3 separate regions of the Homo sapiens genome follow, and regions 1 and 2 are each linked to region 3. The links come from fine-mapping of genetic effects on gene expression. A gene starts in region 3. Each other region holds a variant in brackets. All regions are shown on one strand. Distances are between the middles of the regions. Region 1 has its middle 13 kb from the start of SLC9A4. Region 2 overlaps IL18R1 (interleukin 18 receptor 1). Region 3 holds the start of IL18RAP (interleukin 18 receptor accessory protein).

Region 1 (8,346 bases), 37 kb before region 3:
GTTGAAGGTGGCCTGCCGCAGTGGCTCACACCTGTAATCCCAGCCCTTTGGGAGCTGAGGCGGGTGGATCATGAGGTCAGGAGTTCGAGACCAGCCTGACCAACATGGTGAAACGCCGTCTCTACTAAAAATACAAAAATTAACTGGGCATGGTGGTACGCATCTGTAATCCCAGCTACTCCAGAGGCTGAGGCAGGAGAATCACTTGAACCCGAGAGGCAGAGGGTTGCAGCGAGCCGAGATCGCACCACTGCACTTCAGCCTGGGCGACGGAGTGAGACTCTGTCTCAAAAAAAAAAAAAAGAAAGAAAGAAAGAAAAAAAACTGTTGGTAAGAGCGCCTACTGGAATAAGTTGTCAATACCTGTTGTGCAAGTCTAGGAGTGGGGTGCGAAGGATTCTTCATTAGGATCTTCACTTGTGTGGTGGTACACAAAGAGCTCAGTTCAGTTGAGCAATGATTGCCTGAACTGCCTTGTCACAGGCACATAGTGCAGAATCAAAAGGCAAGAAGTAGGAATTATGCGGGGAAATGAGACAGAACAACATAGAGGGAAATCAGGATGCTGTCCACCAAAAGAGAACTGTTTCAGTGTGAATTTCTTAACTCTGAAAACCATGACAGTTTCAGATGAGAAAACCCTCAGAACACTCTGAGACGTTAAGAAAGAGAACAAAAAAGACTCAACTTTTTTTGTCAGTTAGGACACTTTAAACTCCGCAACAATAATAAATCATCTAGAAACTTCAGTGGCTGAACATAGGTAGTTTACTTTGTACCCACATTATAGTTTCAATGTGGATAAGGAACACCTTTATCATGTGGGCATGCCAGCTCAAGCATGTAGCCTCCAAGGTCACAATGGGCAAGACAGAGTGTGCAAAAGTTATATCTGCATTGCCTCAGTCTAGAAATCACCCTATCACATCCACTCTACTTCTAGAAAATATTAGTCACGTGTCCCAAACCAACTACAAAGAAGGCTGGGAAAAGTGGCTGTGTGTTCAGAAAAACAAAATGATTTTGGTGAACACGTAACATTTTCTCTGTCACATCGCTGCAGTTAGCTCTAGTTAAAGTACAATTGCGTACATGATCATCCATCCGTAACTGAGTGGTTGATTTGTAAATAGCTTCTTATGAGATCTGATCAGTTGAAGCAAATGCGACCTTAAAAAATGTAGTGAGGCAATGGTGGGAGAAGAGCAACGCCATTTTCTGCAGATATCTTAGTAAATTCAGCCTGTTCAATTATCCAGTTACAGATGTGGGGCTTATGAAAAACTCCTAGACGTGAAATGAACCAGAATACAAAGGTAAGAAAAGCCAGTAAGTGATATTTAACTGTGCCAAGTTCTGGTCAGAGACTTTCCTGTATATAGTTGGCTTTTTAAAGGGCACAGAAACTTACCTGGGGGTGGTACAATCAGAGGTTAAATGGGGCGTTTTTCAGTTGACCTTGAATTTTGGCAAAGGTAACAAATTTAAGGACTTAGAGTGGCAAGTGCACTCTCAGTTCAAACAGAGATGTTAGACAAAACCCCTGCAGGACTTGCTAAGGGTAGCCAAACTGGTCCAGCACTCGCATCCCCAGAGACCTATGTAAAAGACCCTACAGCCCCCCAATTAGAGAGCTCCAAGGTCACAACTCATAGATGCGAGGCTTTCTGCCAGCGGGGAAGACTGACATTTCACCCCTGCTAAAGCTGTACAGAGCTGAGTTCTCATCCCCACAGAATCTATGTAATTGGAATGTAGACAAGTAAAAAAAGTCTTGAAAGAGTTTATAATCTTTTCTTTGGGTTTCAAAAATCAGACTGGTGCCTGATCCTCGGCAGGATATCATTGACAATGGCAGATCAGCTGGAACAAATGCAGTTGGAGAGCAAGGAAAGAGAGGGAAGCCTGGGAGCAATGGTGGGGAAAGTGGGCATCCAATTCCCCATGAACCAGGTGAATGCTGTGCAGAATAACCAGGTTAGAGTCACATTGGAAGAATGGACCATTAGGGGCTTTACTGCATGGGGCAGAAGACGAGGTGGAGACAGAGAAGGTATCACCTTCATCAGGTGCACCAGGAGCAGTGGACATCTTGGTAGGGTTAGGGAGAATGGGTTTACATTTTTATTTTTAAATTAACATACAATAAAATTAGCTTGTTTGATTTACAGTTGTGTGCATTTAAATACGGATGTAAATTCACATAATCACCAAGACAATCAGGTTACATGCTCTTTCTTTGAGACCCGCCCTCCTCCATCCCTAACTCCTGGAAACCAATAATCTGTTCTGTCACTGTTTTGACTTTTTGAAAATGTCATAGAAATGGAATCATGTAACCTTTAGAGATAAGCTTTTTCTACCCAGCATACTGCATTGAGATTTATCCAAGCTGGTGCATGTCTCAGTGGTGAATTCCTTTGTATTGCTGAGAAGTATTTCATGGTTTGCTTGTACAACTATTTGTTAATTAATTCACCCTATACCAGTTATCAATTTATCACCAGTTATCAATGTATTACCTCACAGCTCTGAATTCACCATTCAGTACCTGCTGTGTGTAATGGATTGAATTTTTGAAGCATTCATCCTATACAGTGAGCATAGTATTCACCTCTTTGGTACAGGGAGTTGGACAAGCATTACAGGAGGGTCCGTCTGGTTCCAGCTGCTGTGTTCTGTTTTTTTTTCTCACTTGTGCTGCACCATCAGGCAGCAGTGTGTGTGTGTAGACATCTGTTGGTGCTCTGCACTAGCTATATCCAGAGGAAGCCGTTGCTCAGTGACCTCGCAGTACTAGCTTAGGCCAGGTGACCACCTCCCAATATCTTCCTGATGTGGACACTGTGCACTCCAGGCCGCATGCCCACAGTGGCATTCTGAATGCCCTGTGTACCCGCATATCAACTACAGCTCGCCTGCATCCTAAAGCAGTCATGGCCTGGCCATGCTGCATGTCTGCCCACCAGCCATGGCTTGACTGCACCTGACAGGTTTGCTTCCAGCTTTCCCAGCAACTGTGAACTAGCTCTGACCCAGGCACGTAAGAGACCTTCCTTGCCATTCAGTGGGCTACACCACACTGCTTCTAGTGATGTCTGAACCCCAGTCTTGGGGAGGGGACCACTTGCAACTTTGTCTTTCTACTATCTCTCAGCCCTGAGATACTCTTTGGAGTTCTATTCATGTCCTTATAATCAGTCTCTCATCACAGCCAAATAATCATTTATATCATAATATCCCTTTTTAAATTACTACATGATTTCTGTCTTTTGATTGGACTTTAGCTGACACATACTGGTTGAAAGTCCTTGAGTTTTTCTAGGTATTAGTTATTATGAGTAGAGCCACAATAAACATTTGTGTATTGGATTTTGTGTGAACGTAAGTTTTTATTTCTCTGGGGTAAATATCTACAAGTAGGATGTTTTGGGCATCTAGTAAGGAAGTCACATTATAAGGACTTGTTAAATTGTTTTGTAGGGTGGCTGCACTATTTTGCACTCTCACCAGTAGTATATGAGAGTTCTAGTTTCTCTACATCATCACCATTTCGTGTTGTTAGGTTTCTTTTCTTTTTCTCTATGTGCCCCATGGTGTGTGTGTGTGTGTGTTTTCTCCTTGTGGCTTTAATTTCCATTTTCCCAGTGGATGGTGCTGTTGCACATCTTTTTATGTGCCTGTTTGCCATCTGTCTGTCCTCTTTAGCAAAATGTCTATTCAAGTTTTTGCTCCTTTTTTAATTGGTAGCTACTTGTTATTATTGAGTTTAGAGAAATCTTTATAAACTCTCAGCACAAGTCCTTTATTGGACTTGTGATTTTGAAATAATTTTTGTCAATTTAAAGCTTGTTTTTTTTTTTCATCCTTTTAGCAGTGGTTTTCTCGGAAAAAGTGGTTTTAACTTTGTTAAACTCCAACTTTTTTTTTCTCTACGGATCATGCTTTTGGTGTTACATCTAAGAACTCTTTTTCTAATCCTAGGTCATGTTTTCTTCTAACAGTTTTATAGATTTAGGCTTTACATTGAGATCTATGGCCTATTACAAGTTAATTTTGTATAAGCTGTGAGCTTCATCTTATTGCATATGTATGTCCAATTGATGCAAAACCATTTGTTTAAAACTCTATTCTTTATTGAATTGCCTTTGAAAATTTGTCAAAATCAATAGGCCATATTTGTGTGGATGTATTTCTAGACTTTCTACTCAGTTCCATTGATCTATTGCTTTGTTAATATCACACCATTTTGGTTGCTGTAACTTTTTATTGATTCATAAAATCGTCTAGCATGACTCCTCCAACTTTATTTTCTTTTCCAAATAGCTTTGGTTTTTCTAGTTTATTCGCTTTCCCACATATATTTTAGAATTAGTTTGCCTATAATCTACAAAAAATTCTGCTGGAATATCAGTTGGAATTGCGTTAAACCTCTTAATCAATGTAAAGGGGATTGTTGATTTGACAATATGTTGAATCTTTGTATCACCAAACATGCTATGCTTCTCTCTTTATTTAATTGTTCTTTAATTTTGCTCATAAGTATTTCATAGTTTTTAGCTTATGGAACATCCACACATTCTGTTCATTTATACATGAATCTCCCTCCCTCCCTCCCTCCCTCTCTTTCTTTCTTTCTTTCTTTCTTTCTTTCTTTCTTTCTTTCT[CTCTT/T]TCTTTCTTTCTTTCTTTCTCTTTCTTCCTTTCTCTTTCCTTCCTTTCTTTCTTTTTTCTCTCTTTCTTTCTCTCTTATTTCTTTCTCTTTCTTCCTTTCCTTCCCTATCCTTCCTTCTTTCCTTCCTTTCCTCTTTCTTTTTTGACCTATTATAAATGGTAATGTCTGTAACATCTGGTTTTCAATTGTTTCTTAATAGAGATAGAAATACATTTGATTTTTACGTTGTTAATCATGTATCCTAAGAACTTGCTAAACTCACTTATCAGTTCTAGGAATATTTTTATAGCTTTCTTGGATATTCTACATAGAAAATTACTTTTTAGAAAAAAAGGAGAGATTGTTTCTTTCTTTCCAAACTGCATGCATGTTATTTCTTTTCCTCGTCTTATTGCACTGGTGAAAACTTTCATACAAGGTTGTATAGTATTCTGCGAGTAAGTATCCTTGCCTTGCTTCCCATCTTATAGAGAAAACATACATACAGTCTTTCACCATTTAGTATGATTTTTTCATCTATAGTTTGTTTGTTGTTGTTTTTAGAGCCCCTTATCATGATGAGAAAATTCCCTTCTATGCCTAGTTTGCTGAGAGGTTTTATGACGAGACGATGGTGAATTTTGTCAAATATATTTTTGGAATTGGTTCATATGATCATGTCTTTGTTCTTCCTTACACTGTTAATATAAAGAATTACACTGAAATATTTTAAAATATGAAGCCTGCCCTGAATACCCATGATAAGCTCCACTTGGTTGTGATGCATTATTCTATTTATATATTACTAGGTTCAATTTGCTAATATTTTCTTGAGTATTTTTGTGTCAATGTTCATGAAGAATGTTGGTCTATAGTTGTCTTATAATTTTTTTTGTTTGGTTTTGGTATTAGAAAAATTCTGGACTCATAATAATTTGCATAACTTAGGAAATGTTCCTTCTTCTGTTTTCTGAAAAAAATTGTGTAGGATTCACATTTTTTTTTTCCTTTAAATGTTTGATAGAATTAGGCAGTGAAACCATCGGGGTCTGAAGATTTTATTTTTGGAAATTTAATAATAGGAATTAATTTTTTTAACAGTTATGACCAATTAGGTTATTTATTTAATATTGGATAAGTATTTTTAGCTTGTGGTTTTTGAGCATTTATCCATTTCATTTAGGTTGTCAAATATGTATTTATACAGTATCCATAACATTTCCTTATTCGTTTAAGATGTGCAGGATCTGTATTGATATCTCTTATCTCACTACTAATACTGGTAATTTGTGTCTTCCTTCTTCTTCTTTTTTTTTTGGTCAGTCTTGCTAGGAGTTTTTCAGTTTTATTGATGCTCTCGAAGAACCAGGTTCCTGTACTATTGATTTTCTTTATTGTTTTATGTTATTCAATGGCAGTGGTTTCTGCTCTCAAATTTATTATTTTTTTTTGGCTTCCTAAGGTGGAAGTTTAGATTATTAATTTATATATTTTCCTCTTTTAACATAAGTATTTAATATTATATACTTGCCCTTAAGCATGGCTTTAGTCTCATCTTGCAAATTTTGATATGTTGCATTTTCATTTCCATTCATTTGAAAATATCATTTCATTTGCTTTGAGACTTCCATTTTTATCCATAGATTATTGAGAAATGTGTCACTTAATTTCCAAATGTTTTGAGATTTTTCCCACCATCTTTCTCTTAATAATCTCTAGTCTGAATTCATTATAAATCCATTATAAATACAGAATATAACTTTGTACAATTTCAATTTCTAAATTCTTGTTATTGTTTGTTTTACAATCTAGGATACGGTATATCTTAGCACATGGTCGGTGTGTACATCAAAAGATTGTGTATTCTGCAATCATTGGGTGGAACATTCTATAAATGTCAAGTAGATCTAGAAAACAACAATTAAGTAGTGTTGTTCTATATTCTTCTTCTTTTTTTTTCTGAGACGGAGTCTCACTCTGTCACCCAGGCTGGAGTGCAATGGCACGATCCGGCTCACTGCAACCTCTGCTTCCTGGGTTCAGGAGATTCTCCTGCCTCAGCCTCCTGAGTAGCTGGGATTACAAGCACGCGCCACCATGCCTGGCTAATTTTTTGTATTTTTAGTAGAGACGGGGTTTCACCGTGCTGGGCAGGCTGATCTCAAGCTCCTGACCTCGTGATCCGCCCAACTCGGCCTCCCAAAGTGCTGGGATTACAGGCATGAGCCACCACGCGCAGCCTATATTCTTGATAAATTTCTGTTTACCATTTTATCAATACTTGAGAATAATATTCAAGTCTCCAACTACAGTCGTGGATTTGTCTATTTCTTCTTTTAGTTCTGTCAGTTTTGCTTCATGTATTTTGAAGCACTGCTGTTAGGTGCATACACATTTAATTAAGACTGTTATGTCCTGTTGGTAAATTTGTCCTTTTATCATAATGTAATATCTGTTTTTCTCTCTGGTAATTTTCTTTGCTCCAAAGTCTCCTTTAGCTGATGTATTATAGGTACTCCAGGGCCTGACATGGTGGCTCATACCTACAATCCCAGCACTTAGGGAGGCAAAGGCAGGCAGATCACTTGAGCTCAGGAGTTCAAGACCAGCCTGGGCAAGATGGTGAAACTCCATCTCTACAAAAAAAATGTGAAAAAAATTAGCCGGATGTGGTGGCACACATCTGTGGTCCCAGTTACTTGGGGGGCTGAGATGAAAAGATTGCTTGAGCCTGTGAGGTCGAGGCTGCAGTGAGCCATGATACACCACTGTGCTCCAGCCTGGGTGACGGAGGGAGACCCTGTCCCCAAAAAATGTGCATAAATATATATTTATTTATTTAGAAACAAGTAATATATAAATATATTTTTCATATACTATGTATAATATATAATAAATAGTAATTTACATTAACATGTTCATCATATAAAATATATAATATATTTATTAATATATTATTCATTTCTAAAGAATATATAAATAAATAATATATATATAGGCACTCTAGCTTTCTTTTAATTAATGTTCATGTAATTATATCTTATTAACCTACCTACACCATTATACTCAAAGCATTTTTATTGTAAGGGGGTTAAATTTCTTGTTCAGATAAGCTTGCAAAAGACAATGTGCTGAGAATGCAGGACAATGATCAAGATTTCACTAATTTTAAAGACAGCAAATTAGCTGAATCTGGTTCTGATCAAGTCAAATCTGATAAAAGGCTTACTGAAGATGGTTTTAAATAAATTTATAAAAGTTTATTCTAATAATCTCTGTCTTTTAATTATTGTGTTTAGACATTTTACACTTAATGTAATTATTATGATGTTTGGATTTATGTCTACCATTTTGTTATTTGATTTCTATTTATCTTAGTTTTTGTTCCTCTGTTTTTCTCTTCCCTTCTTTTGGATTATTTAAACATTTTGATTATTCCATCAAAACATTTTTATTGTGGAAAGAATGCTCAACATGGGGCCTATCCTCTTAATCAATTTTATGTGTACAATACATTATTGTTGACTATAGGCATAATGTTGTACATTATGTGCTTTTCCATTTCACGTATCTGATATTTTATGCCTATTTATCAATCACTTCCTATTTTCCCCAGCCTCCAGCCACCATTTTAGTCTTTGATTTTATGCATTTGACTATTTTAGATACCTCACATAAATGAAATTATGCAGTAT
Region 2 (8,000 bases), 49 kb after region 3:
AGTCCTGAGAGACTCAGTTGACATTCTCCAAGAAGACAAGAAAAATAAGATGGACAATTATGGGAGAAGAATAGCTTGTGCTGCAGGTGAGGTTTGGGAACCTAGCAGTGGGAGATGGTCATTACAGCAGAACTCTTACTGTCCCTAGAGCCATCCTAGAGCTGTACACACACTCACTCAGTCATTGTCAGCCAACCCTACGAGGGATGAACCATTACTGTCCCATTTCATGATGAGGAATCTGAGGCAGAGAGGAACTAAGGAAATTAACTCACCCAAGGCCACAGTCTCACAGAGCTGTTGTGAGGATTATATGACATGATTCAACTCCAGTACTTGGCACTATCCCTGGCCCATAACAAGCACCCTTTTAATAATGGATATTCCTACAGCTTCATCAAAGAAGGAAGGAAAGAGCTGCTGATGGGCAGAAAGCAAAGATGGTGGGAAAGAGGGTGTAGGTTCTGAAAGTATCAAAGTAACAGAGATTTATATGAGATTAAAAATAGATGTAGGAAAGTAAAGTTGGAGAGTTTAGGGTAGATGATTATACACAGAATTTAAGTTTTTGAGTTTAAAATTCAGTTATGGGTTTCCCAGGTTCTGGGCTGTGGCAGGCAGAATAATAGACCCTGAAGTTTCCCACATCCTACTCCTGAGTTCCTGTGAATACGATATGTTACATGGCAAAAGGAACCTCTAGGTGTGATTAAATTAAGGATCTTGAGATAGGGGGATCACCCTGGATTATCTAGGTGGGCACAATGCTGTCTCAAGGTCCTCATCAGAGGGAGACAGAAAGGTCAGAGTCAAAAAGGAGATGAGGTGAGGGAAGCAAATGTGTTTGGCTCTGAAATGAAGTGGCACAAGCCAAGAAATGCAAGTGGTCTCTAGAAGCTGGAGAAAGCAAAGGCAAAGAAACACATTTTCCAGCCTGGTGCAGTGGCTTATGCCTGTAATCCCAGTACTTTGGGAGACCAAGGCAGGGGGATCACGAGGTCAGGAGATCGAGACCATCCTGGCTAACACGGTGAAACCCCGTCTCTACTAAAAAAAATATAAAAATTAGCCGGGAGTGGTGGCGGGTGCCTGTAGTCCCAGCTACTCGGGAGGCTGAGGCAGGAGAATGGTGTGAACCCAGGAGGCGGAGCTTGCAGTGAGCCCCAAGGCTGCGCCACTGCACTGCAGCCTAGGCAACAGAGCAAGACTCCATCTCAAAAATATAAAATAAATAAAAAAATAAAAGAAACGCATTTTCCCCTACAGCCTCCAGAAGTAAAGCAATTCTGGCAAAACCTTGATTTTACCGAAGACACTAAACTTGGGATAATTTGTTACTGTGGCAACATGTGGGTGTATATAGCTATATGGTTGTAGTGAAGAAGAAAGATGTTGCTAAAGCAAAGGCTGTAGCAAATGTGAGCCCACAGATTTTGTTGAACAAGCCACCCACACAAGTGTTACAGTTTCCAGTTTCTCAGGATGATGGGGAAAAAAATCCAGACTGGATAAGCAACCTGTCTTCAAATCACGAAAGGAGCTGTCATTTTAAGAAGGAGCCAGATTTAATCTGTGAAATTCTTGAAGGCAAATCAAAATCAGTGGTTGGAAGCTACGAGAAGGGATATTTGGACTCAATGGAAAAAAAAGACTTCAACAATCAGATATTAAAATCTGGACTACACTGCTGTGTGATTTGGTCATTTCCTTGATAGTTCCCAAGAAGGGACTGGATGATCAATCATTGGCTGTGCCTTATGATGAATATCTTCACTGGGTGAGGTTTAATTAAATACCTTTAATGTCCCAGGATTCTGTTCCTCCATCACACACAGCCTGGGTCCATCATCCCTCCCCTCCCACCAGCACATCAGTGTTCCTTACACTCTCCCAGTGGAGATCCCTTCCCCCAGCAGGTCACTGTTTCATGAGGCTCCCCCTCCAAGACCCAGGTCAAATGGAGCCTCCTGCATCTGTCCTTCCTCCAACCTCCCCCTGCACTCTTGCAGCCTCACAGATGATGCTGTTTCATACACCTTTATGTAGCTTATTGCCTCTCCTGATTAGAATCAAATCCCTTGAGAATAGTACAGTGCTCACTTCATCTCATACTTCCTTGCTTCCCTGCCTCCTTGTGCTAAGTACAGTTTATTGAGTATAGATATCTTCACTAAATACTTGTAAAGTGAAAATGTAAATTCAACAACAAAAGATTCCACAATTTACTCAAATTTCATATATAAGAGAGAGCTGACTCATGTGAGGTTTATTCATACAGATTTTCATTTCCTGCCAAAAAGAAAGGTTTATTTAGCCAAGTAGAGGAGCACCAGAATGAAGATTTTGACCATCATATTTGAACTAGTGGTGTGGTCACAACCCCAACTAAGTGGACTCTCAATTCCTACACAGTTTTGAAGAATGAAAAAATTCCATTTTACTAAAATACGTCTGTTTCTTCCCAATTCTAAGATTTCCCTTACCTTCCACTATTGTTATATTGAAGGTTTTGGTGATATTAAATAGTTTTCCATTATGATGAAGGAAATGCACGCAGGAGTAATACCCCTGATCTTCAAACTCGGCGTTCTTCTTTATCGTTGGGTTTTTATTGTTCTCCAGTAGTAGCTTTTTACAGTTCTGTTTTTAATAAAACAAGTTAAAATACTTTAAGTAAAAGCCAAATTGATATTACAGTGATCCAAATTTTTGAGTTAAAGATCTTTAGAGAAAAAGGAAAAAAGAATGGAAAGTAGCAATTCCTGGACATATGTCCCAGTTACTTGGTACTACTTTTACTGAAACAATTAAATGCGATCCCATTGCTGTTGGCATGATTATCATTATTAATATATGCTGGGAAGTAGAGCATGGGGCAATATGAGCACTGTAGCTGCTTTCATCAATATTCTTTCATCTCTCTCTTTTACACACATGCAGAGAGAGAGAAACAGCGAGAGACAGAGAGAGAGAGAGAACACTACTTCAAAAACCCTTGCTTGAGTCACAACTCTATTTCATACATGTTCAGTCCAATTTTGTGTATTCTGGACTATGCATCCAAGGGGTGGATAGTGGGATGGGTGGAGAATTACTCAGAGAATGAGTAGCTAGCAGACCACCCACACCTTTGACACCCTCCATCAGAAGCCAGCGAGCTGATTAGAAATGCATCAGCAATATTCAAATCCATAGGTACACTCAAACATCTCTCTCTCTCTCACACACATTTCCATACATGTCACAGGAATTAATACTAATTGTAATAAAGCCACTTTCTTCAATCCAGCACATCTGACACCCAGAGGTAGGTCCCAGAGCCATGCAGGGACCACATGGGATGTCTGGGGGCTGAATGGCCATCCTTGACCATTGGACACTGTTTCTGCAAACACCAAGCAAGGAGAACCTACTGCCCACAGACTTCTCCCTCAGAGCTGGCAGCCACTGGGGCTAGACCCATTGTGCATAGAATGTGCCCGTGAAGCACCCACATGTGTACCTCACGTCAGTAAATTATTTATGTATAAGTCAAAATTTTATAAAGCCAAACTAATTTTTTCAAGCTATAGAAAAGATCAGAGACTCTTCATTTTCCTTTCCAATCAATTATCTACTGAATTAGCCTCCTTGCTCT[C/T]GGGTGAAGTCATGATCAGTCAACAGGCTTAGAATACTTAGCCCTGTGGTCAATTGTTTAGCTAAATATCCTTGGTGCACCAATGCTCATAATTTAAATAGCTGCACTTTGGAATTTCATTTTTTTTTTTTTGAGACGGAGTATCGCTCTCTCCCCTAGGCTGGAGTGCAGTGGCCCAGTCTCGGCTCGCTGCAACCTCTGCCTCCCGGGTTCAAGTGATTCTCCTTCCTCAGCCTCCCGAGCAGTTGGGACTACAGGCATGTGCCACCACACCCAGCTAATTTTTTGTATTTTTAGTAGAGACGGGGTTTCATCATATTAGCCAGCATGGTCTCGATCACCTGACCTAATAATCCGCCCACCTCAGCCTCACAAAGTGCTGGGATTACAGGTGTGAGCCACTGCACCCGAACGGAATTTCTTAAAACTCAGCACACCAAGCCTCACTAATTTACATATACTGTAACACATTTGTACATTGATGGGAAATAGAATAAAGTCAACTCAGGACTGATTCGAGTGTTTAGAAAACATTTCAGATAAGAGCTGTCTTTGGAAATCACAAGTAAACAGTGTTCAAGCATAAGGCACAAACAAAAATTTCAAGGATATTATCATCACTCGCTTCAGATTTCCCAAGTTCTGTTCAGACCACTCTCTTATAGGTCTTTAAAGTTTCCACGACAGAGTCATATTATTCAGATTTGTTATTCCATATAAACTACATCAGCTGTCCCCAACCGTTTTGACACAGAGACTGATTTCATGAATGACAACTTTTCCATGGACCAGGGTGGGCAGGGGTTGAGCGGGGAATGGTTGGTTTGGGGATGATTCAGGCGCATTACATTTATTGTGCACTTTATTTCTATTGTTATTACACTGTAATATATAATGAGATAATTATACAACTCACCATAATGTAGAATCAGTGGAGCCCTGAGCTTGTTTTCCTGCAAATAGGTGGTCCTATCTGGGGGTGATGGGAGACAGTGACAGATCATCAGGCATTAGATTCTCATAAGGAGCATGCAACATAGATTCCTCGCATGCACAGTTCACAATAGGGTTCTTACTCCTGTGAGAGTCTAATGCAGCTGCGGATCTCACAGGAGGTGGTAATGTTAGTGAGGGGGAGTGGCATGGGGATTGGGGACCCCTGAACTACACAATTTGTGTTGCGTATGTGTGTGGATGGGAGTGCGTATGTTTTTTATGCATACACACACTACACTCACACACGCTATGTATGTGTATATATAATTCCTATAGCGTGGTCTAAAAGAGCTTTTTTTTTTATTATACTTTAAGTTCTGGGGTATATGTGGAGAATGTGCAGGTTTGTTACATAGGTATACACGTGCCATGGTGGTTTGCTGAACCCATCAATTTGTCATCTACATTAGGTATTTCTCCTAATGCTATACATCCCCTACCCTCCCACCCCACACAACAGGCCCCGGTGTGTGATGTTCCCCTCCCTGTGTCCATGTGTTCTCATTGTTCACCTCCCACTTATGAGTGAGAACATGCAGTGTTTGGTTTTCTATTCCTGTGTTAGTTTTCTGAGAATGATGGTTTCCAGCTTCATCCATGTCCCTACAAAAGACATGAACTCATGCTTTTTTATGGCTGTATAGTATTCCATGGTGTATAAGAGCTTTTAAAATTCAACAGGTAAAAGGTATACCAACTGAAGAAAACAGAAAAAAATAAACAGGCAACCCACAAAATTGCCTGATTGCAGTAAGATGCAATAAATATATACAAAAGTTTAATTTATTACTAAGAAAAGTGAAAAAACCACTAGGAGTTTTAGAAATTTTTCATATCAAATTTTAAACATTCTGGGACCATTATTTCCCTGTGTTGTGGAGGTGACAAAAAATTGGGATTCTTTTTTCAAGTGTGGGGTAAAATTGGCAGAGCTCCCTGGAGACAAGTTTGATAGTGTGAGGAAAAAGACATAAAAACATGCTCACAGCCTCTGATCCAGTAATTCTACATTTAGGGATTTGGTTGAAGGACAAATCATATAAACACCCAAGGATTTGTGGAAATGGTATTCATTTTAGCCTTTAAATAATAGTGAAAAATAGGCAATTCACAAATGTCCAATAACAATGGGATTAGTTAGACGAAACAAGGGGGTTAGTTAGATGAAACCAGGCACATAAAAACTGAAAGCCCATGTTTAGAAGATCATTTAAAGATGTGAAGGGATAGTCACAACGTAATTCTTAGAGGAAAAAACATAAAAAAATAAAATATACCACTTTTAAAAAGCAGATGCTTCACAGAAAAAAAAAGTCTGTGATGGATTTATGAGTGATTTTTGCTTTCTTCATTTTTCAGTTTTAAAGTTAAAATATTATAAAAGCATTACCATTTCCAATTTTATAAAATGAACTAATATATTCAGAAAAACATATACAATTGAGTTTTACATGTTAAGTACATGTGACAGGAGAAAATGGAAATCCTTAAACTAGCATTCCTAAAAACTAACTTATCGAAAGAGAAGGAAAATGAAGGAAGAGTGTGGGAGAAGAAACTGTGATCATTTATTGAACACCAAATCCAGGGAAACTACTGTGGAACATATTTTAATACTATGTATCAGCTCTTGACAACAAGCCAGTGAGGATACTTGGCTCAAACAGGGCAAGTGAGCCATGTGGGATCAGGCAGCTTATTTGTTATGAGACCAGAATGGTAGCTCTCAGCCCCTCATTTGGGAATTTTATCTTTTCCATCAAGTCTTAAAGTTAAAATATTATAAAAGCATTACCTTATACAATGATGTGCTGTTGACCAGTGTTTGATAGTAACTGTTTTCACAGGTTATCTGAAAAAATTTTTTAACTTCCACAATTTTACTAGTTACTTGTCTTTCAGTGAAACAGCTGTGTTTATTTCTTCTGATGACATTTAATTTCCATTTCTGAGTATAATTTCTATGGAATAAAAGTGTAAAGGTATTTTATAATGCTACAGAAACTTTGCAAATATCACCCATCTTCCCTTTAGTAACCAGTTACAATATTTTTCCTTTATTTTTATTAAAGAGATTGATTCATTGATGTGCAAACCCTGCTCTGCCTCCGCTTGATTCAGAAGAGCAAGAACTTTAAAAACTGTCATGGGAGCAGGGGGTAATAAATGAAAACCTAAGCAGTCTACACACAGAGACACACACATGCACACGCACACACGCACATATCCTACTGCAGACAATATATTATGGATGTCAGAAAAGCAAATCTTTACAATGTCAGTGATCTTCACTGATGGATAAGTTCAGAGAGTCTTGGCCCAGGATGGGAGGGTGGCTTTGGTTTCAAAAGGTCTATAAACTCCTGATGTTGTTTTCTAAATGTGTGTATATATATATTAGGTTTTGTTTCTCAAGGCAACTTCTTCCAATCCCCTTCTTTTACTGTTGAATAAACCAAAGTCTGGAGTTGCTGCCCTCAGTGTAATTGAATTAGCTCTTTAAATGCCTTACTGACCAAAAGTGAGTGTGAATAGATTTTATAGTTGTTGTTACTCCTGATCAGAAATTAGTGATCAGGACTATCACTAGGCCAGGTGCAGTGGCTCACACCTGTAATCCCAGCACTTTGGGAGGCCAAGGCAGGTGGATCACCTGAGGTCAGGAGTTTGAGACCAGCCTGGCCAATGTGGTGAAACTCCGTCTCTACTAAAACTACAAAAATTAGCTGGGTACGGTAATCCCAGCTACTCGGGAAGCTGAGGCAGGAGGCGGAGGTTGCAGTGAGTGGAGATCGCGCCATTGCACTCCAGCCTGGGTAACAAGAGCGAAATTCCATCTCAAAAAAACAACAACAACAACAACAAAAAAAGGTGATCTGGAATTGGAAAACAATACAGTATTTTTTAAATGAAGATTTTAAAGAGAAAATGTTTCAAATTTCATGTTTGCTTCCACTGCACCTGTGATGTATAGATTTATTTGCTAAATACAGCAGATGCGTGTTTTTAAGTTATCCTCTATGCCTGACACATTTGTGCCCACCTTAGGCTCTTCCAGTTCCCCTTTAGGTCTACAATAGGATAGAAGGAAGAAAAGACTAACACTTACTGAGTTCCAGGTATTAGACTATGTACATGCAAGGGAGATGACTATTTTCCTTAGGCTCAGATGAGAATGCTAAATCTCAGACAGGTTAAACAACTCACTCAGGCCACACACTTGCTACAAGATGGGGCCAGGATACAAATGCACATCTATTTGGCCCCAGAGGCCAGAAGTGCTCTGCACAATTCTACACTTTCACAATCCAATGAATCTGGCCCCTTCACCTTGGGCATGAATTTATAAAAGATTGGCCGTGACTGG
Region 3 (8,000 bases):
TACATGTATGCAACGAAATACTATTCAGCCTTTACAAAAGGAAATTCAATCATGTGGGAGAACACGAATAAACTTGGAAGCTATGCTAAGTGAAATAAGCCGGGCACAGAAAGACAAATGCTGCAAGAGCTCACTCATATATAGAACCTTAAAAAGTTGAACTCATAGAAGTAGAGAATAGAATGATGATTATGGAGGCTTGATTGGTGGGGAGAAGAGGGTGAATGGGGAGATACTGGTCAAAGAGTACAAAGTTTCAGATAGATGGGAGGAGTTAAGTTTTCAGGCATATTTCACAGCAAGATAACTATAGCCAATAATATTGTATTGCACATTTCAAAATAACTAAGAGAGTAAGTTTCAAATGTCTGTCCACAAAAAAAGTAAGCAAGGTGATGGATGTGTTAATTAGCTTGAGTTAATCACTCCACATTGTATACATATATCAAAACATCACATCAATACTTTTTTTTGCATGTGGTATGAGATACAATTTCATTCTTCTCCCTGTAGATAACCAGTTTTCCTAACACCACTTATTGGAGAGGTAATCCTTTCCCCATTGTGAGTTCTTGGCATCTTTTTTTAAAATCTATTGACCATTAAATGTATTGTATATATTTAATCTATTGTAAATGTATACAATTATGATTTGTTAATTAAAAATAATTTTAAAATAAAGAAGTTGAAAAAAATTTAAACAATCTGCAAGCCTGTTCTTAATTCGCCAATTAAAAATATTGTGGAATGCTCCAGAGACTCCAAGCCCAGGGATTTATTTCAGTTGTATACTCTGTATATCTGGTGGGTGTATCCCTGGTCAGCAGTTTTATTTGAATTCAGTAAAGCCATGTTTTCATTCTCTCAGCCAGTGCCAGCTTCACCTATTCAGAGATGGGTCGTAGGTATGACTTACCCACCACCTGAGAACCTGGGGGTTAGCATGAAGGAAAAAGGCATTAGGTGTTTTTTCCTGCCTAATGCCATCACTTTTAGTGATGTACTACTGCCATAAGGTCTGTGATTTCCAGGTTACTATGTGCCTTTATATGCATGTGTATGTGTGAGTGCACACACACATATGTGTAATTCACAAAACCAGGACCTGTCCAAATCTGTATCAGAGGTACAATTTTCATAACAGCCATTGTTCACCTATTCTTAAGGTGGCTGCCTGTTCACCATTAAACACATGTTGACGTTTGCAGTCAAAGCCCCAGGGAAGTGAAACAAAGCTTCCTTTTGTGAATGTCATACAGTTTTAGGGTTTAGTTTATAAAAGCAATATTTGCAGAAAGCTGGCTACTATTATGCAACTTGTGCTCACCTGAAAAGTAAAAATTCATAGCTTTCACTTCAGGTGTATGATCATTGAAAAGCCAAACACATTTTCATCTGAAATAACGGGGACAAGACTGCTTTACAGGCCTGAGAACAGCCCACCAAGACAACAAGACAGCTGCCATCCTGGATGACGGATACTTTGAACCAAAGGAAGTTTTGTTCTTGAGAGAGAACTGAAAATAATGAACAAAACTATTGGCTCTTCTTACTAACCTCATTTTAAAGGTTATGAAATGAATGTTTCTGAAATTAGGGTTTTATTGAGACCAGCATTCTTTCAGTGTCATATAAAAACACAAATTTGAGACCATACCCCATGCCGTTCGTCCACCCTGTATATTTATTTCTGTAAAGGATGTGATAACATCTGTCTTCCTATTAGCCTGGAGTCTCAGGAATCAAGTAGGGAAATGTTTCCTCTTACCATGGTAACTGTATCCCCAGGAGACTCTCATTCTTAAAATTTGGGGTGCATTAAACCATTAGATAACTCATCTTTCTGATTTTAATCAGTAGCAATTTAGAATGATATTTTTATATTAACAAACACATATATTATGAGGTTGAATACAAAATTCTGCATAACTTTGAAGACAAAGTATTGAACTTCAAATAGTTATTGCAATTGTAGGAAGTGATTTAGATTCTATTCCTGGATTCCACCACCCAAGAATCAACTGACAGGGGGCTCTTTTGGAGGAGATGGTTAGGCAGCATTTCATCATCTGCTAGCACTTGGAAACACTATCAAACACGATGGAAACATGAAGTGCTTTTGTTATGGGAGTTCACGTACATGTGGTTCATAGCTAAAAGTCATTGTGAAACTTGCTCTTGTTCCCTTTTTCTATTTGCACTGTACTCCTTTCCACCATCTCACCTGTGCAAGACATCTGTCACTCAGGCCCACCTTGGATTCGTCCTAACTGTCCTCCAAGAGCTGTCTTTTGGGAATGTATTTCAGGCTCCTGTAACTTTCACAAACCCTTCAAGACTTATGTGTTGAGTCCTCCCTTCCCCTTTGCAATGCCTGTTGCTTTCCTAAGACAGTGAAAATGAGTGAACCTATCTTCCTACATTAGCAGATGTTAGTAGGTTTATGTCTAACCTCATGTGTAATATACTTGAATTTTAGAAGTTTCTCTGGTGTTGATCAAAAGGATGCCTCTAATAATTAGAATATCAAGCTCTGTGGCTTCCCAGGGAACATGATTATTTTAGAAAGTCAGATCTCCTGCAGAGGCACAGGGCCAGTTTTTGAGAAGCTGTATACCTCAGATTCTCAAACACGCTTTTCCATGAAAAGCCCATGAAGAAGATACCATAAAAACAATGCTCTTATATTAATTTTAGAGAATTCACTCTTACCTTGTACCAGGTTACCGCTGGACTTTGTGCATCACTTTGGCAGCTGAGACTGGGGCAAGAAATAGAGCCAGTGCTCCCAAGAAGTAGGTCTTGCTTATGTGATGCGGAATACTCACAGGATGCATTTGTCTGGGGCTTAACTTCTAAAATCATCTTGACACAACAGGCTACATCATAGGGGCTCCTAGGAAATTAACAAGATCCTGTGAACATAGATATTTTGTCTAGATAATAGAGGATTTGGAAATGTTTTCAGATAGAAATGTATTTGGATCATACTTAATCATCTTGGGTCTACAAATATATGACCCAGAATTATTCACCCCTGGGGTCAAAAAGTGAAGGGTACATTTGTCCTGAATGATGTGAGGATAGCTTTTCCTAATGTCCTCTAATGGATCTCCATTCGAAGGTTGTTGGTACCATTGGACATCAGATAGGTCGTTACTACCCATGAAGGGCAGGTGCTCAGGGACTTGTTTTGGTGAGAGTCGATTTCTGTGGCAGAAATGTGATTTCTGTGGCTCTGGTAAATCACAAAATAAGACAAATTCCTCTTCACTCCTTGTAGAATATGTCCAAAGGAGTTTTTTTGTGGAACAACCTGAAAATCATAATAAACAAAGCACATGGAAACACATTAGAAAATGGAATTCTAGCTTATATTTACATCTAGTACTTGATTTAACAAGAGATCTAGCTTCCTTGTGTGTCTTTCTTCTTCACTGTCTATTTTGTAGGGGAAAGGAAGTGCCTGTTCTAATTCCCTCCCAGTGGACTCCAGCATACCAGCAGCAGCCCTGGTTTCCTGGAAAAGATGGTAGAACTCTGGCTCATCCCTCGTCAGCTGATCTCACTGAACACTCAACTACAGTAACAGGGTACCTCGACAATGCTTGGTATCAGCTGAAAGCTGTTCACCCTAATAATTCTCCTCTCAGTCCCCTTTTAATAGTAGGATGGAAAGGTTTGTATTAATATATCACACTGCTGATATATCAGGTTATCCATCACTTTACACTTGACCACAGACTCACAGTGCTAACATGAAAAGTGAAAACCCCTACCTGAAATATTAAATCCTTTAATTCGCTCTCCTGCAACAAGCCAAAGAAATATCCAGCCCAAACAGAGCATTGTTCTCCCGTGTTCCTGTCATCACTCCAATAACTTCATTCCTTTGCCAGAGTAGAGTGTTTTGAGATTCAGAACTCTGCCCTGAGTATCCCCTTCATTTCTGTAAATCAAGAAATGGGAAATGAAGAAGTCAGAACCAGTGAACAAAGTGCATCTCACACAGGAAGCTTTGAAAGGGCAGGTCCTACCCAAACCGGCCTTCACTTGCCTATAACTTACGTGAGTATTTCCAATGGTGTGTAGCAACCTTTTCACTTGTGTCATTTCTTACAAATCATCTCAAGCTCCCAATATCCCTAGGCTCTATGCAGTGTGTTCTTTTAATGCCATTTTTCCCCTCATTAATCTTTTTTCTTTGATGTGCTCACCTAGCATGTGTATTTCCATGAGTAATTTGAAAAGAGTTATGTTTAACTTTTCCTGAAAAAATGACCCAAGTTGAATAAAACTGTCAGATTTTTCACGGTTAGGAAAGCTAGAGATATAGCTCCTATTTATAAAATTTGAGAATGTTTGCATATACTAGTCTATTCTATTAGAGAATAGAGGCCACCTACCTCTCCCTGCCCCACATGCAAGAGGGAAAATTGTCACTGGATGGCACCACTATCAACTCTCAAATATGAAAGGGGGAGCAGGTCCCCTCCAGAGAATCAGATCTGGGCTGTGTCCAAAGGACTTGAGTCCCCTCTCTTGATAAGGCAGTCATGGGACCTTTCAAACCACTTACTTGAAATATCTTGGGGATCCAGCTGGAGCATTCCCAGGGCAGAGGGGTGGGGAGGCATATGGCTCAGAGCAGGGTCTCAGTTTCAGCAGCTGGAGGGAGCCTGGGGCATCTGTAACAAGCCTGGATTGTTTCTGTTGCCCCATAAGGGAGGGCAGATGAACTTCCCTGAGGAACCTCAACCTTTAAAAGTAGGCCAGGGCTAATGGAAAATAAAGAATGACAAACCTAAAAGGAATGCAAGGAGCAGAGCAGAGAGACCACCTTGGCAATCCAGACAGAGAAAGCTTGGAGGAGAGACTAGACATCAGTTTCAGAAGCTGCAGAGGAGTTGGGCATGAGAAGGACTGAAAAGTGTCCACCAAAGAGTCTTGGTTTGGCCACCAAAAGCTCAGCATGTGCAGCTGGGGTGAGATAACGGAGAGCTTCAGGGTGGAGAGAGAGGAGTAGAGGGAATGTGGGAAGCGGGGAAGAACCACGCCTGCTAGAGTCTGCATGATGCAGGAAGACAGGAGGAAGTGTTTGCTCATTTCTGGAGATGAGAGGGCCTTGGGTAGGATTCCACTGCGAGGGGAATGCGTCAGCAGGTCAGTGAGGACAAATACAAGTGAGAGTGAGGAGAGGGTGCATGGACTGCTTTCTCCCAGGAAGCCAGAAGAAGTGGGGTCCCTGATACCATGGGGAGATTAATCTTGGACAAGAGGCAGGTAGAACCATGCAGGTGAAAAGGAAAGTCTGCCCAGACCACTTTGTCCAGGTGGAGCCAGAAAGTACAGGAAAGTACAGGATGCTACCACCTGGCTGCTGATGCTGACCTGGCTGTCTGCTGAGAGCAAGGCGTGTTCATGGAAGAAAGAAAGGGGGTTCTGTGCAATGCGCCTTGCAGAATGCCACGGATAGGTGTTAAGGTCACTGCATTATCCCCATTGCTGACAACTGACAGCTCTTCTTACAAGGACTGCAACCAAGGAACAAGGCAGGATCAGCAATGGCCTTTAAAGATGTGGTCTCCCCACTTGCCTTTCCCTTGTCCACAAAGTCTCCGAAAGAACAGTCCTCCAACTCCACCACCAGACACATCTTCCTAAGCAGCAAGCCTGGGCATTTCATTTCCATGCCCAAAACGTCACCGGCTCCCACCACCCATGTGATGAAGCACAGATTCCAGAGCACCATGGACAAAATGCTGTAGCGTTTGGCTCTCTCATGTCTTCCCTGATTTCTTCCTCAGAGAGTCGTTCCCTGACCACCTGGATAAAGAAGCGCCCTCTCCCTTCTTGCCATCAACCATCTCTCTTGCTACTCATTTTAAATGACTTTTGTCTTAGCACATATTATTGTCTGAAAATATCTTACTCCTAAAACTTCTCCCCAACTAGAATATAAGTTCCATCCCAGCAGGAACTGAGTTTGTCTTTCTGAGTCCTGCAGCCTCTCTGCAGGAATAGTGCCTAGCTGATAACAGGAGCTCAGTAATGACTTGTTCAGGATTTAACCATGCTGCAGTAGATCAGTTGTTCCTTACACCTTGTCCTCCCACTAGATTGGGAGCTCCTGAAGAGCAGATATCCCATTTCAGAAATCATATATCCTGATCCTAGGAGAGTGCCAAATGAACAATTAGTAATAAATTCTGTGTTCTGAAAAAATGATAAACACTTCCAGAGCCATCAGAACAAACACATAGCAATCTATTATGGTGATTCACATACTGTGTGGCTCCAATTAAGTCACTTAGGCTCTTTTTGGACCTCAGCTTTCTTACCTGCAAAATAAAATGTCTGGACTGTATCAGTAGTTCCTCCACCTTAGAATGAGGGAATCAGAATTTCTGATGTTTAAGTCGGGATATTTGTAATTTTTAAAAAAGCTCCCTGACTTGTAAATCATAAGATCAGATGGTTGCTAAGATCCTCCCAGCTCTACCATCCCGCAATTTATGTCTAAATGTCCAAGCCTATAGCAAATTAGTTACCACGATGCCCAGCAGTCTCCAGCACTCAGGAATGTCCGCCAACCTTGAGATGACAGATACTGCCTACTGATGCACCCACCCACCAACTGGCCTCAGACCTCCAGCTGCCTGGGGCTGATTGCAGGCTGCAGCTATCACTCTGGGACAGTGTTTCTCAAATCATCTTGATTATAAGAATCACCCGAAACCCTTATTACAAATGCAGATTTTTGGGCTTCCTGAGGACTTATTAAATCAGATTCTCAAGGAGAAGAACAATGGAACCTACATTATAAACAAGTGTCAGAGCCACCACGCTCATCTGGGAGACACTTTTGGGAAACCCTGCTCAGGGATAAGCATAGAGCTTGGGGAGGTGGGTTAGTGCTGAGTTACAGTAGCTGTTGCCAGCATTGTAGGCAACTGACCAACATGAGCCCAAGACCATTCTGGAAGTCTCATTTATGTGGGACAACACACCCACACTGTGTGGCTTGCTTGTTAATATCTACCTTTTGAAGGCCATCTAATGTCTAAGTGATGTCTTCCATGCTGCCGTCACTAAAATGCTTCACCGAATCGGAAGGAGCCACCAAAATGCAGAGTACATCATTTATTGAGCACTGGGCAACTTAAGCCAAAGCAAGCTTCAGACTCTGCTTATGGGAATAAAATAATGTGGCACTCATTTACTTTCTGTAAAGTGAAGCGGGGTGCTGTCTTTCTCATATTACAGATGGACAACCAAGGCTCACATTGCTTGGAATGGCAGTGCCCATTCTCAATGATAATCACATACCTGGTAAGTATTAGAAGGGGGATTCATATCCAGGTGTAGAGGGTCTCAAAGCTTCTGATTTCCCCATCACCATATGTTGTCCTTCACAGAAGGAATTGAGAGCCCAACAGCGCTGGGAGAATCTACAGAATCGCTTCTTTATCAATTTTCCAGATGCGTTTTTTGAGAATCACATATGTTTTTTCAGAGGATGAAGATTTCCCTTTCAGTTGGTCAAGGCTACACCTTCAGCTGTCTCTGGCAGAAATAATGAACTAAACTTTACCCACAAAACTTTTTGGTGAGAAACGGGGGAGAGAGAGGAAAGTGCTGGAGAAAGCAGTGTCAACAGGGATCTGAGACCCAGGGAGAGAAATGTCACCATCAAAGGCAGACTTAAACTACTTTACACAGAGAACACCTGCAGACAGAGATTTGGTCTCGTGTAATAGTGACAGTATTTAATTTAACTAATATCATTATGATTCTCAGATGCTCCATGGTGGCTTTAGACCCCATTGTCTAGGGATAACAGAAAATGAAGCTGTAGTACCTGCCATCAAAGATGTTACAGTTAAGTTTAAATGGGCATTCAAATTTGGCAAATATCTTGAATCTCTCTGCTCTTAGCCCTTCCTGTAAAATGCTCAAAGCACTTTAAACGGGTTTATTTTATAACCATCAGTTTTTTT

The links.
Region 1: its variant is fine-mapped to the expression of IL18RAP in whole blood (INTERVAL, PIP 0.98).
Region 2: its variant is fine-mapped to the expression of IL18RAP in whole blood (INTERVAL, PIP above 0.99).

Annotation. Positions count from the first base shown.
Region 1 is chr2:102,455,969-102,464,314 of GRCh38, reverse strand. No RefSeq gene overlaps it. Among named protein-coding and RNA genes, the nearest start is that of SLC9A4, 13 kb to the left of the region's middle. The variant CTCTT/T (reference allele first, on the strand shown) is at 4,668.
Region 2 is chr2:102,370,547-102,378,546 of GRCh38, reverse strand. IL18R1 (interleukin 18 receptor 1) reads right to left here. Exons shown (of 11, transcript NM_003855.5): 4 at 6,429-6,594; 5 at 2,484-2,640. Among named protein-coding and RNA genes, the nearest start is that of IL18R1, 19 kb to the right of the region's middle. The variant C/T (reference allele first, on the strand shown) is at 3,638.
Region 3 is chr2:102,419,127-102,427,126 of GRCh38, reverse strand. IL18RAP (interleukin 18 receptor accessory protein) reads right to left here and starts at 3,967. Exons shown (of 10, transcript NM_001393487.1): 1 at 3,780-3,967; 2 at 2,992-3,316; 3 at 2,713-2,896. The coding sequence starts at 3,849.